Linked DNA regions of Homo sapiens. The protein of the gene in region 1 interacts with the protein of each later gene in a biochemical or structural test. Each region holds a gene or a part of one and is shown on either strand. Other genes may lie near its edges.

Region 1 (3,500 bases):
CTGTTTCATAGAAGATGAAGCTGAGGCTTGGAGAGGTTAAGTCACTTGCCATGTGGTCACGCACAGCTGGGAAGGGTTGTTGCCAGGGTCTGAATGGGGTCTGCCCAACTCCAGCACTCTTGCCCTTACCCACTCCTCCAGGCAGCCAGTGCAGAGCACATGGGCAACATGTTTACTGTGTGTGCCCAGCAGCACCCATTCAGGAGCTTTCATTCATGGCCCCAACAGGCTGGGGCCAGGAAAGGTCCCAAGCTATACCCCAGCTGTGGTTGGTGCACATCAGTGGCCCTAAGCTATTATTGGGCCTTTTGCTTAGCTCTCCCTCCCCTACCCTGCCCCCACAAAGCTACCTTCCTCTCTGGCATAGATCTCAAGCCTAGGAGTACAAGGCTCCCAGGGCTACAGCCCACACAGCGCCACACCCTACAGCAGACCCAGGAGATGCCTGACTCCCTCCCCAGCCCTCCCACCAAAGGCCCACACATGGGCGTCACCTTGGTTCTACTCATCTTGTAAAGTTCTAATGAATAGAAATTAGCAACTGCTGAGTGACAGCCTCCCCCTGGCTCTCCTGCCTCCCCCAGCTCTTCTCCCTGTGGGGAGGGAGATCTAGCAGTTAGGCCCTTTATGCCCACACCCCCACCATGGAAGAAGGGCAGAGCCTGACTCATTGGAATCCCATTGTTGCCAGTTTCTCTGGTGCGTGGTGACATTTTAGATCACCCTGCTTATGTGAAGCTGTTTTTGGCATGCTGCCCTCCCAGGGCAAGCTTGCTGCTTCCCAGGAGGTATGTCCCCCGAGTGCAGCCCCTGGGGCACAGACATTTGTCTCCCAGATGCATGAACTAACACACCTGTCGCATGCTTGTGCTGTGGAGCGGCTGGACACCTAGGCTGACTTTGAATGGATTATACCAAACGGACTGATGTAAGACCTTTTAAGGAATGGAGCAAGTGGAATGGCTCAGCCCTGCTCTGTCACTTCCCCCATGCAGCAGATGGTTACTGGGTGCTCTGGGAGGAACAGGAAGCATCTCTGTTGTACCAAGGAACCAGTGTTGGCTCCATAGTAAGACAAGAGTCAGCCGAGCATGGTTATTCACACCTGTAATCCCAGCACTTTGGGAGGCTGAGGCAGACAGATCACCTGAGGTTAGGAGTTGAGACCAGCCTGGCCAAGATGGTGAAACCCCGTCTCTACTAAAAATACAAAAATTAGCTGGGCGTGGTGGCGCATGCCTATAGTCCCAGCTACTTGGGAGGCAGAGGCAGGAGAATCGCTTGAACCCGGGAGGCTCGGAGGTTGCAATGAACCGAGATCGCACCACTGCACTCCAGCCTGGGCTACAGAGCGAGACTCCATCTCAAAAAATATATATATATATGAGTCAATATTTGATCAGGCATCTCAGCCTTCCTCTTAGCAGCCCTGCTAAGTGCCCCACACCCCTAGGGCAGGAAGTCAGCTGATGGACCTGGGAGAGGGGTTTGGAAAGCAAAGAGGGCCAGGCCTTGTTGCACACTGCGCCTCTACCCCCAGATGGACATGGGCCTAAAGCTGGGCCATCCCACACTGACTGGCAACTGGCAGATTTCAGACCCCAATGCCCTCAGCCCACCATCACCCTTGACCCCACAACCAGCAATAACAAAAAGACCAAAAGCCTGTTTCTTCCACCAGCCACCAGCGCAGTTCCTCTTTTCCACCAGGAAAGCTGGAGTAGTCCTGACGCCATATATACCACCCGCTCCAAGGAGGATTGGATTCACTGTTGGTAGAGTGGCCATCAAGCCAGAACCTAGCCAACCAACACGGAGCCAGAGGGAGAAGGCCAGGGGAGGGAGGACCTCAGTGGTGCTCAGCATCAACTGGCTTTGGGGTGGGGGCATGGGATGGAGCAGTCACTTAGCTTCCCATCTGGTGATGAGGACCAGCAAGAATTTGCAACAGGAACGCAGCTTCCATAGCAAAGTCAAGGGGAGGGGAGCTGCCGCCCTGGGCTTGCCTGGCAGGAATTAGCTTATGTACCAAATTGTTTGTGACAGTGCTGAGCAGGAGACGCTGGCTTGTGAGGAGGAAGGCTTTTTTAAACAATTTGGTTAAAATGTTCAAATTGCCAGCTCTGACTCTTGCCCTGGAGAGGAGGGCAGCGGCCTGCTGTTGACTCCCTGATGGCTGGAGCAGTGGAAGCCACTAAGAATGGCTAAAGATCACCCAAGCTACGGGCAAGGGCAATCTCGTGGGTCCGCAGCCCAAGGCAGAGAGAGACATGGAGTTTACCACCTCCCCGGCAGCTCCTGCCACTGCCCAGCGTCTTGATGAAACAGTATGGAAACACGGCTGTCATTTATCCAGGTGTCTGCCTAGCAGGTACAGGAATGTGGGCTTGGGGACTGGAGCCCCCACCTTAAAAAGAGGTGAGGCAATGGAAAGGACCAGAGGGGCCCTGATTCAGCAATTTACAGTGCCTTGGAGCTCGCCAGCAGCACCTCATTTGCATCTGGATTCCAGCCCTGGCATCTGCCTCGCCCCGCTCTGCTCACAAAGTAACCCCACTGTCTTTCCACAAAGCCAGGCACTCCTTAGCCTAACGGCAGATCCTAGCCCTGAGTGCCCAGAAATTCTATGTAAAGAATGAGAACCAAACCAGGCTCCCACTAATTTAGAATTCAAACAACCCCAAAGCTAAAATAACCCCAATTTTTTTCTATATTGCATAGTCATCAGTGAGCTTTATAATTTTGTCCTAGAAACCCCCCCAGAGTCCCTAAGTGCCTTTGGCCTATCAAAGTAAGACTCATTTATGTTCAGTCTAGTTTGTGTTAAATGTGTTTTGTGCTATCCTGATTCCTTTAAAAATGGTAATTCATTCATGAGAAATACGATAACTATTAACCAGACTGCCCCATTCCTGAACCATTTTGCATAATTGAACATGTATTCTATCAGCCTCTTCCTTTCCCCCAGGGATAGAGACCGACCTTTCTTTACATAACCCCTGGGCACTTGCCCAAGCCAGCAGGAGAATTCAGGTTTGGTCCTTTTTTTTTTTTTTTTTTTTTAATCTCAGGTCAACCAATCGAGTGGCGGGGTGAAGTCGTCCAAAGTCTTTGAGGTCTAAGAGTCCCAGATTCAAGTTTACATACTGGCTGTGTGGCCTTGGGGAAGATCCTTTCATCTCTTTGGACTGGCTTCCTCGTAATATTTCATAGGGTTATTGTGAAGAGTAAGATAGCCTATCTCACATGCCTAGGCCGTGTCTTACACATAGGAGTACTCAGTGACCAAATCTTGCCCTCTGCATCTCTCACTGCCACCTTGGGAAAAGCTAAGAAGGTGGTTCTTGCCGCAGAACGCTGACTCCTCCTATTTTGGTTTGGGGATAGAACTTTAAAAGGGCTAGTAAACAAAGGTCCCTTTTCAGCTTAAGTCAGAATTATAGGCAGCAGGGAACATGGAACTCCTGCTTGCCCAAGTTGGAACTCTAGGATCTGGAGGC
Region 2 (3,500 bases), on another chromosome or scaffold:
AGTAAGTGCGCAAGACTGCCCATCAAAGAGCCAGGGCCCAGAGTTCACAGTGGCCCTAGTCACAACAGGCACGAGGTGCAAACAGCCCAGTGTCCATCGATGGAGGAATGGATAAACAGCACGTGGTCTGTCCATACAATGGAATATGATTCAGCCTTTAAAAGGAAGGAGATTCTGACCCCTGCTACAACACTGGGGAACCTTGAGCATATTATCCTAAGTGAAATAAGCCAGACATAGAAAGACACATACTGTAGGATTCAACTTCTGTGAAGTGCCTAGAGTCGTCCAATTCATAGAGACAGAAAGTAGAACGGTGGTTGCCAAGGGCTTGGGGAAGGAGGAGAAAGGACATCTATGGACATTTTGCCATATGGCATAATGGGTGCAGGGTTTATGTTTGCGGGATATTTTAAAGTTCTGGAAATAGGTAGTGCTGATGGCTCTACAACATTGCGAGTATTCTCAATGCCGCTGAACTGTACATTTAAATGTGGTTACAGTGGTAAGCCTCATGTTAGTATATTTTGCCACAGTTGAAAAAAAAAAAAAAAAACAGTCAGCATGTGTGGCCTCTAATGGCAAGTACCATAGCAGCAAATGGAGGAGATCACTGGGCAGAGGAGATCACTGGGCAGAAGTGATCAAGGAAGGCAGCCCTGCAGGACAGGCCCACAGCTGAGCCTGAGAGGGGATGGGGATCTTTGGGGAAGGAGGGGAGGAATTGCTAGGGGCCACAGCAGGGCTGTGCGCAGAGGGAGAAAGCATCAGGAGACAGGGCCACCCTGTGTCTGGGTTGGGGCTGGGTCCTCATGCTCACCACCTGGATGGGCTCACCAAGGCCACTGCATCTCCCACAGACCGGGGAAGAACACACAGTGACACATCTCCAGTACGTCGCATGGCCTGACCACGGTGTGCCCGATGACTCCTCCGACTTTCTGGAATTTGTAAACTATGTGAGGTCTCTGAGAGTGGACAGCGAGCCCGTCCTAGTTCACTGCAGGTATGGCGCTTGCTGTTTTGTTAGGTTTGGAATCCTTTCCCTGTCGGAAAAGGCCTGGAGACAATTGGCAGGCGCCAGACCCACCCTACATCCCACAAAGTCGTGTGCCCTTACAAACCTCTGTTGACTGTGGTTCTTCACCATTTCAAAAGTTTTTTGGAATTTTATGAAATCCTAACTTTGTGAATGTAGCACAGAACTGAAGAAGAAAATCCCCTCACACACCCTTTCTCCTGTCCTTCTGTCAGCTGACCTTCGTCATAGGTGTGAGTGAGAAAGGGAATAGGTTTGGCACTTCACAGTGGCCCTCTTTCCACTGCCTGCTAGCCCCCAGTCTCAGATGTGTGAGGACAGGCTGTCTCAGCCTGTTTGAGAGCACGCCGTGAGTGTGCGTTTTGTCTTCTCGAAGGCCAAGGGAGGAAAGCCCCTTTGGAGTCAGCGGGGAACTGCTCGCTGGGCCATGCAGAAAGGCTACTCAGACAAATCCCAAGTCTGTCTTCTCTCCCCTCTCCAGTGCTGGAATAGGTCGAACCGGTGTGTTGGTCACTATGGAAACAGCCATGTGCCTAACTGAGAGGAACCTGCCCATTTACCCACTGGATATTGTCCGAAAAATGCGAGACCAGCGCGCCATGATGGTGCAGACATCAGTGAGTAGAAATCCAGTAATTACGGTGGCTGGCACTTTCTGAGCACTTACACCAGGCAGGCCTGAGAGAAGGGCTTTGTGAGTCAACAGACTGCAGCTCAGGGGGACTGAATCACTTGCCCAAGGTCACAGAGCTTGTCAGTGGCTACAGCCCACACCCATCTCACCTCTGAGCTCTGCTGCCTCTGTGGTTTATTTCCTGCCAGCCCGTCTGTCAGGGAGCAGCCCTGGTTGCATTCTGTATCGTTGAACAATCATTTGTCCATTATCCTCCCCCGCACCGACCCACCTAGACCTGGGTACTCCTTTTGGCTCAGTGGATGTTGCATATGACCCTACTTTGAGCTCTGTTCCACCCGTGTGGTGCCTGAGTACCTGCTGTGTCCTCCACGGGCAGGCCAGAGCTCAAAGTAGGGTCATGTGCAACATCCTCTTGTCCTCAAGAGGAACTCTAGGGGATAACTCTTGGGGATTTCCCCTGGAACTGCAAGCGGGGCAGTGAAGCGGTGTGGAAAGAGCATGATTAAGGTCCCACCACAAATGGAACAACCTTTGCATAAGTCCTGAACCTCTCTCCAAGCTTCAGCTTCCCTGTGCAAAATGGGGACCATCCCACATTCATTCATTCATTCATTTGACAAAGAAGGGTGCAGAGACAGGCTTGTATCTAGTAGGAGAACTGGATTAGTCTATGCTAAGTGTCAGCAGCGGTGAGGGAAGTTCAGGGCTGTCTGAGAACATGGTGGAAGAGTATCTAAAGCAGGATTTGGAAAGTCTAGGAAGGCTTCCTGGAGAAGTGTCTTCTCTGGTAAAAACCCCCAGGGTACATGAGGAGTTAGCAAAGAAAGGAGCAGGAACTATATGTTCCAACCAGCTCTGTCTCTTCACAGGCTGTGGACAAAGTTTATAAGATTTCCCTAATAAATTTTTAAGCTTTGGTAGTTTTATATTAGTTTGTACCCAGAAAATCTTGTTAAGAGAAAAAAAATCAGCTTATGTTATTAGGGCCATTCTCTGCCCTGTTTTTTGGTATGGAAGACCTCGTGGCTGGTTAAAAAGAAAAAAGTCCATCATCCTGGTAGATTTTCCCAGCTGGAAGCTGGGCACGGTGGCTCACGCCTATAATCCCAGCACTTCAGCAGGCTAAGGAAGGTGGATCACTTGAGATCAGTAGTTCAAGACCAGCCTGGCTAACATAGTGAAACCCCGTCTCTAATGAAAATACAAAAATTAGCCAGGCATGGTGGCATGTGCCTATAGTCCCAGCTACTTGGGAGGCTGAGGCAGGAGAATCGCTTGAACCCAGGAGGTGGAGGTTGCAGTGAGCCAAGATTACGCCACTGCACTCCAGCCTGAGTGACAGAACAGGACTCTGTCTTGAAAACTAGATAGATAGATAGATAGATAGATAGATAGATAGATAGATAGATAGATAGATTTTCCTAGCTGGAGAAGCTCAGTCTAAATGCTTTTATCCCCCCTGTATACTTTGCTACAATATGTTTCTTAGGTATTTGCTAAGATAAATAACTGTATCCTGCAGAGCATCTTTCAGTGGCTCTGCTTTGTAAAACACAATCCAGACTCCTTACCCCAACACAAGGTGCCCACAACCAGGTCCCAGCCCACCTGTGCAGCCCCTCCTCCTCCACATGCCTAGGTGTTGAGTCCAGGAGCAGGCTCCCTGACCCCGTTTCTCAAAATGGGCTCTTACTGAGGCTTCCACACTTCCACTTACAAGAAGGGCTGTCCCGCAGGGACTTTTGCTCCTTCCCACCTCCCCCAGACCGCCAGTTTCTCCCTCTGTCATGTCTCCATGACACTTTGCCCACCCCTCTCTGGGAG

Evidence for each region. The genes of interacting proteins can lie anywhere in the genome.
Region 2: the proteins of MYO18A (region 1) and PTPN3 interact in a test that uses a peptide from one of them, tested with the Homo sapiens proteins (one large-scale study listed by IntAct).

The regions. Positions count from the first base shown.
Region 1 is NC_000017.11:29,075,899-29,079,398, reverse strand, and holds part of MYO18A (unconventional myosin-XVIIIa), read left to right. Parts: intron 1-3,500.
Region 2 is NC_000009.12:109,379,808-109,383,307, reverse strand, and holds part of PTPN3 (tyrosine-protein phosphatase non-receptor type 3), read left to right. Parts: intron 1-860; coding exon 861-1,006; intron 1,007-1,520; coding exon 1,521-1,656; intron 1,657-3,500.